2 linked regions of the Homo sapiens genome follow. Changing the gene in region 2 together with the main gene of any one other region gives a genetic interaction. Each region holds a gene or a part of one and is shown on either strand. Other genes may lie near its edges.

Region 1 (3,500 bases), on a different chromosome or scaffold from region 2:
TTCCACGGCCAGGGCTCCTGCAATCACGGCCAGTCCTGGACGACTCACAGTGCACTGCTGGTCCAAGGTCCGGTCTCTGGTTGACTGCAAAGAAACAATCATTGGTGTGTGCAGAACGTTCTACTCCATTCAACTCTAGCTGTCTCAAGTATGAAATCCTCTGTGACAAAGCTTTAAATTATAACCAGATGCTCATTGTTGGCAAAGAACATCCAGCCTCAAGTACATCATTTCTTGAGATTATCAAGATAAACAAAATATACAATTTAGGTAACTAAATGAGGTGATATGCTAAAAAGGATCAGTAGCCTAAACAGATTGGGGGATATTAACCAAAAATGAGGGCTTAGCTGCCTCATATAATGGAACTGCATCATGTGTTCCTTTAAGTGACTCAATTCAGTTCTACTGTGCTTGGTAGTTAAGTGACAGAGACACAGAAAGGAACAATGATTTGAAAAGTGCAAATGATTCTGCCCTGCCATTTTAACTGAGCTAACACCTCAAAGTGACCGTGAGATGGGAGCAACAATTTACTATTCCTGCGGCCCTCAGTTCCTATGTGCCTCTCACAACATGGGCATCACCTCTCTGTGTGATTCTAGGGTTTACTACAAGTATTTTTTTTTTCTACAACATGGCTCTAAGCACAAGCCTTTGCTGGTTCAACCAAAGAGAGTCTAACCATCCAACTCTGGGCAAATTAAGAGGTTGTTAGAGATATTTTTGACTCTATAAAAATTTTACCTTATGAGCAGATGGGACTTTACTGCAAGGGACCACTAATCGTATTTGTTGACAATCACTAAATAACAAGACCAGCTATATATTATAACACCATAACAGAGATCATCAAGCCATCTTTCTCCATAAAAGAGAATGGTCATCTTCTTTTCTTTATATTGGGAGGGCATAAAAGCCAGTCATCCAAAAGAGATATGAGTTATTAAGGGAAAAGTTTTAAAACAAAGGAAAAATAGAGGGGAGGTTACAGAAAACATCTCTGCATTGTTTCACTGGAAATCGTTATCTGTTCTGATAAAGGAACAGACCTACATACAGACTGACTTGTGTGGAGTTCTGAAAGTCATAGAATCTTAATTTGTACAGTGTAGTCTTGCTGTTCAAAGCACTGTCGCACTTGACCCACTTTGCACTGTGAGTTGACAGGGCAGGTATTCTTCCCTCCTCTATTAGCATTGCTAGGGAGAATACAAGACACTCAGTTAAATTTGAATTTCAGATAAATAAATTTTTAGTATAAGTGGGTCTTGAATATTGCATGGGACATATACCAAAAAATTATTCATTATTGGCTAAGCGTGGTGGCTCACACCTGTAATCCCAGCACTTTGGGAGACTGAGGCAGGTGGATCACGAGGTCAGGAGTTCGAGACCAGCCAGACCAACATGGTGAAACCCCGTCTCTACTAAAAATACAAAAATTAGCTGGGCATGGTGGCACACACCTGTAATCTCAGCTACTCAGGAGGCTGAGGCAGGAGAATCACTTGAACCCAGGAGGCAGAGGTTGCAGGGAGCCGAGATTGTGCCACTGCACTCGAGCCTGGGTGACAGGGCGAAACTCTGTCTCAAAAAAAAAAAAAAAAGAATTCATTATTAACTGAAATTCAAAGTTAGCTGGGAATCCTATATTTTTACTTACTAAATCTGACAAGCCTACACATCACTCCTATTTTGCAAAGGTAGAGGGAACCTAAGAGACTTTTTAGAACTACCTGGGAGGCAGTGTCAAGCCATTGATGGAATCTGGTCTTTAGACTCCTGATTTGTAATGTTATCTTGACTAAGAGAAGCACCGGAGACAATACGGAGTGCTATCAGGGACTAGTCTGCTGTGGTTTCCTCAATAAGCTTTCCAAAAATATGGTTTGTAGCCGCGTTTATATTGGTGAACAAGGAACAGGTGTACAGTTGATGACGCCAGTCAAGGTTCATAATGAGATAATGCCATCCTCCCCAAATTGGAGAATTCTTCTCTTTGTTAAAAGATAATATTTAAATAGTCATAAATGAAAGGGCCAAGTCGGTCTGCCTCAGTGTACAAGTTGGTGATAGGAAATATTTGGAACTATAGAGAAATCCACTTACATCTCCTGGGGCCACCACATCATTGCAGAAGTAGCAGCCAAGCTTGTAACCAGGGATGTTGGCAAAAAGCGATGAGCCCAGGAGGTCAGCAGATGCCACAGGGTGGTTTGGACACAAGTCCCCAGCTCCTTGCTGCTTTGGTTTCTTCAGACCATGTCTCATGACAACAAATGTGTCAAATCCCAAAGCAGCATTGATGACCAGCTGCAGGTTTCAAGGAATGAAAGAGCAGAGTTAAAAGACACATATATTTCAAGCTGTGGCTAATTCCATATTTGCTCAACTTTTTAAAATTTATTTTTTGCATGTAAGTGTAATTAGATTATAAAAGCTAATGATGATAAAATCTACCCACTACTGAGGGCTTATTAATTACAAAAGACTTGATAAGTGATGAACATAAATTATCTCATTTAATTTCATTTGAAACTCATAACAGACCAGGTATAGTGGCTCATAACCTGTAATCCCAGCACTTTGGGAGGCCAAGGCGGGCAGACTGTCTGAGGTCAGGAGTTCGAGACCAGCCTGGCAACATGACGAAACCCTGTCTCTATTAAAAATACAAAAAATTAGCCGAGCATGATGGCTTGCGCCAGTAGTCGCAGCTACTCAGGAGGCAGAGGCATGAGAAATGCTTGAACCTGGGAGATGGAGTTTGCAGTGAGCCGAGATTCCGCCACTGCACTCCAGCCTGGGTGACAGAGCAAGATTCTATCTCTGAAAAAGAAAAAAGCAAACAAAAAAACTCATAACAAACATTTCTTATTTATAGATGAGGATACTGAAAGTCAGAGAAGTTAGTTCTATAACTTGCCCAAGGTCACTTATCTGGCAAGAGGTAGGTATATAAAACCAAGTCTACATAGTTCTCAAACACATTCTTTCCACCATTATGCTATACTGTCATGTTCACATAGATTTGTTTTTATAACAGCTTTATTGAGATATAACTCACATACCATATAATTCACCCTTCACATAGAATTTTTTTGGTATCCCAGTAGCTGGAATTACAGGCACATGCCACCATGCCTGGCTCCGCATAGTTGGTTTTTTTTTGTTTTTTTGTTTCTTTGGGGTTTTTTTGAGACAGGATCTCACTCCGTTGCCCAGGCTGGAATGCAATGGCGTGATCTCGGTTCACTGCAGCCTCAACCTCCCAGGCTCAAGTGATCTTCCTGCCTCACCCTCCTGAGTAGCTGGGAGCACGGGTGTGCATCACCACACCTAGCTAATTTTTTGTTTTTCTTCTAGAGAGAGAGTCTCACCATGTTGCCCAGGCTAGTCTCAAACTCCTGGGTCAAGCAATCCTCCCAAAGTGCTAGGATACAGATGTGAGCCACCATGTCCAGCCCAACACATAAATTTTTAAGAAACCGTTTTTT
Region 2 (3,500 bases):
ATGTGACTTCCTTTCCCTGACTGTCTCCCACAACCAGGGCCTGCTCCCTGAGAGGGGGCAGCCCTGTTTTAAACACAACCAAATCCCTGAGTATTCCTTATCCCTGGCTCCACCCAAGCACCATCAACACTAGCCCATTTTCTCCATTTCACTTGCTATACTGCAAGGCTGCACCCTGGTCTGGGAACCCCTTACCCCCCCAGCCTGGGCTCTCACCACTGGTTCAGAAGCTTCAAAAATCAATGACAAGTGGGGAAGAAAATCCCCACTGGGAAGTGGAAAAGAAACTTTCGTCATGTGGGGGCTGCAAAGGACCCAGGGCTTGGTCCCACCTCCCTCCCAGGCTACAGTTTGCCTTGGAATCAGCTGGGAGAGGAATGGTTTCACTCTATGAAGTTGTGTCTCTGGTTCACATTAAAAAATATTTCCATCCTATTTGCATGAATGAGAGAGAGTGTGTGTGTGTGTTTGTGCGCGTGCACGTGTGCATGCAACGTCAGGACATTCAGATAGAGACCCTCAGACAGTGGGTCAGGGAAGGGCATAAGGACCCTCTAGGCCAGTGGAGAGTCAAATAGAGACCTCAGACTGGAAGTTGAGAGACCTAAGTTCTAACCCCAGCTCTGCTGACTCACTATAACCAAGCATGAGGCATTTACGCTTGCTGGGCCTCAGTTTTCCTATCCAGGAATTAGAGATTAAAATGGTTGTTACAAGAGCACTAGGTGGATGAACTAAGACTTAAAGCTCCTTGGAGGCAGGGGGCATTATTTGTGCCCAGCGGATTACGTGGGAAGCCTTGACATTCAAAGCAGAACTCCTGGGCCTGTAATCTTCAGTTCCACACAGAGCAGGAGAGTGGGTGTTGACAGTATGACTGAAAAGCCCAGCACTGGGCTGGCCCAGGCAGGAAGGCAAGGAGGGAACTCCGGCTGGCTGTCACAAGGCCCAAGAGACTGGAAGTACAGCTCTCTAAAGAGGTGGTTATCAACTAGCAATCAGTAAATCAGCTCTCAAAGGAGAGGGGAAGGACAGCGTAGCTTCCGGGCTGGGAAGGGAACGAGGACCGACACTGGAAAAGGATGATGAGTATGGTAGTGTCCAGAAACAAGCAGAGCAAAGGCAGTGTGGTATAGGGCCAAGAGTACTGGATACCTGACTCTGATGTCTTGAGTTTATCTGCCGACCTTGACCCTTGATAAAAAAGCCCTCATATGGTATAAGCCTTTATAGGTCACATGTTATTATGTCATTTGACCTTTATAACAACCTGTTAGTACTATGCCTATTCTACAGATGAGGAAACAAATTCAGAACAGTAAAAGTAACTCAACATCACACAGCTAGTTAGTGTGGGAGCCAGAACACAAACCCAGTTTTGTGACCCAAAGTCCTGTGTTTTCCTTGGTGCATCATACAGTCTTCAAGTTACCCCTTACCAGCTAACTGTGTGACCTTGATCAGGTAAGTTACTGCCCTTCCTGGAGCCTCTGTTTCTTTATCTGTACAGTAGAAGTAATAATAGTACCCCTCCCAGCCTCAAGGGCAGCATCAAGGAACCTGACCATGGGAATGAATACACTTTGTAAACTGAAGTGCTGTACACACAGGAGGTGACAGGAGCAAAGCCTTTCATCCCAGAAGGCAGGAAGCACTGAGTATGCCTGTATCTGTGGTAGGGGATCAGCCCAGTCCTCCCTACTCAGGTCTAGTTCAGACCTTTATCCTCTCTCCCAAAACAACTCTTCTTTCTGAAATCCTCTGGCCTGAACTGGGTTGAATAAGTTACCATAGCCCATTTCAGGAGGGCATATAGAGTCTAAACTGTGCCAAACAGGAAGAAGGGATGTCAGTGCTGCAGGACACCAAACCAGGAGTGTGACCTATCTGGAGCGGGGTTCAACAATGACTTATTCACTAAGTGGCTTTTTCAAAAGAATCATTAAGCCCAGCTCAGTGGTGCACCTGCAGTCCCAGCTACTAGGGAGGCTGGGCCCAGGAGTGAAGGGTTGTAGTGTGTACACTAGTCAAGGTTATCGTCCCTGTGAGTAGCCACTGCACTCCAGCCTGAGCAACACAGCAAGACCCCATGTCTCAAAAAAAAAAAAAGTTATTTAGTAAATCAATGGTTGCCAATCTGTTTTGTTTTGTTTTTTCTTTTGGAGCAAGGTCTTGTTCTGTTGCCCAGGCTGAAATGCAGTGGTGCCATCACAGCTCACTGTAGTCTCAACCTCCCAGGCTCAAGGCATCCTACCTCAGCCTCCTGAGTAGCTGGGACTACAGGCAGGCACCACCACACCTGGCTAATTTTTGTATTTTTAATGCATCTTTTTGTTTGTTTGTAGAGACAGGGTCTTGCCATGTTGCCCAGGCTGGTCTTGAACTCCTGGTCTCAAGTGATCCTCCTGACTAGCCCTCCCAAAGTGCTGGGATTATGGGCGTGGGCCACCATGCCTGGCCAGATCTGTATGTTATTAGACAAATTACAATGACTTATTCTGGCTTTTTAGTCCCAATTCAGATCATGCCTGGTCCCTCATACTGGCATTCAGAGTTCTTCACAATTTGATAAGGGATATTAGAGTTACGTAGACTTGGGTTTGAATCCTAGTTCTGCCTCTTACCAGCTGTGTGACCCTGAGCTTCTGATGATTTGCCTCTCTAAGCTTCAATTTCCTTATCTTTCAAATGCAGTGGCAACGTACAGTACCTACCACATAGCACTGTTATAAGGACTAAGTGCATTAATGTATAATATGTGCACAATGTAGGTACTTTGCAAGTGTGAGTTCCCAGCTCCCTGTTCCAGAGGGATTTTCAATGTCCTCTGCAAACAAGCCAGGATCATTCTTGCCTCTGAACTTTTACTCTTTGTTTTTCCCTCTGCTGCCATTCCCTCTCCCTTCTCTAATCTTCCTTACTCCTTAAGGCCTAACTTAAGTCTCACAGTTGCATAAGGTTACTGAATTCTTCTTTGGATATCCATTGCATGGCTACCTGTCGCCCAGGTTAGAGTGCAGTGTCGCGATCTCAGCTCACTGCAATCTCCACCTCCCGGGTTCAAGTGATTCTCCTGCCTCAGCCTCCTGAGTTATTGGGATTACATGCATGTGCCATCATGCCCAGCTAATTTTTGTATTTTTAGTAGAGACAGGATTTCATCATGTTGGCCAGGCTGGTCTTGAACACCTGGCCTCAAGTGATCCACCTGCCTTGGCCTCTGAAAGTGCTGGGATTACAGGAGTAAGCCACTGCACCCATGGCCACCCCTTTTAACCCTGCTTTGGCTCTGTGTGATTCTCCTTTTCCAACAGTCATACGTAAGTTTCCCAGCTGTACATGCCCTTCAGTACTGAAGCCTTGGCTTCTCTGGACTAAATGACAAAAAAAAACCTCTAAGTATAGGGCTAGGCACACAGGACTGTACAACCATTGCCTTTTGATCTGCTTGTACCAGCCCTCATCACTGAGATATGGAGAGACTTCTCTGAAGCCCAGTA

What was found. Genes that interact genetically often act in the same process or in processes that back each other up.
Region 1: of RHOG (region 2) and ATG7, changing one enhances a phenotype caused by changing the other (phenotypic enhancement), as found in Homo sapiens cells (one large-scale study listed by BioGRID).

Annotation. Positions count from the first base shown.
Region 1 is NC_000003.12:11,359,397-11,362,896, reverse strand, and holds part of ATG7 (ubiquitin-like modifier-activating enzyme ATG7), read right to left. Parts: intron 2,317-3,500; coding exon 2,113-2,316; intron 85-2,112; coding exon 1-84. UniProt on the Homo sapiens protein: E1-like activating enzyme involved in the 2 ubiquitin-like systems required for cytoplasm to vacuole transport (Cvt) and autophagy.
Region 2 is NC_000011.10:3,830,960-3,834,459, forward strand, and holds part of RHOG (rho-related GTP-binding protein RhoG), read right to left. Parts: intron 1-3,500.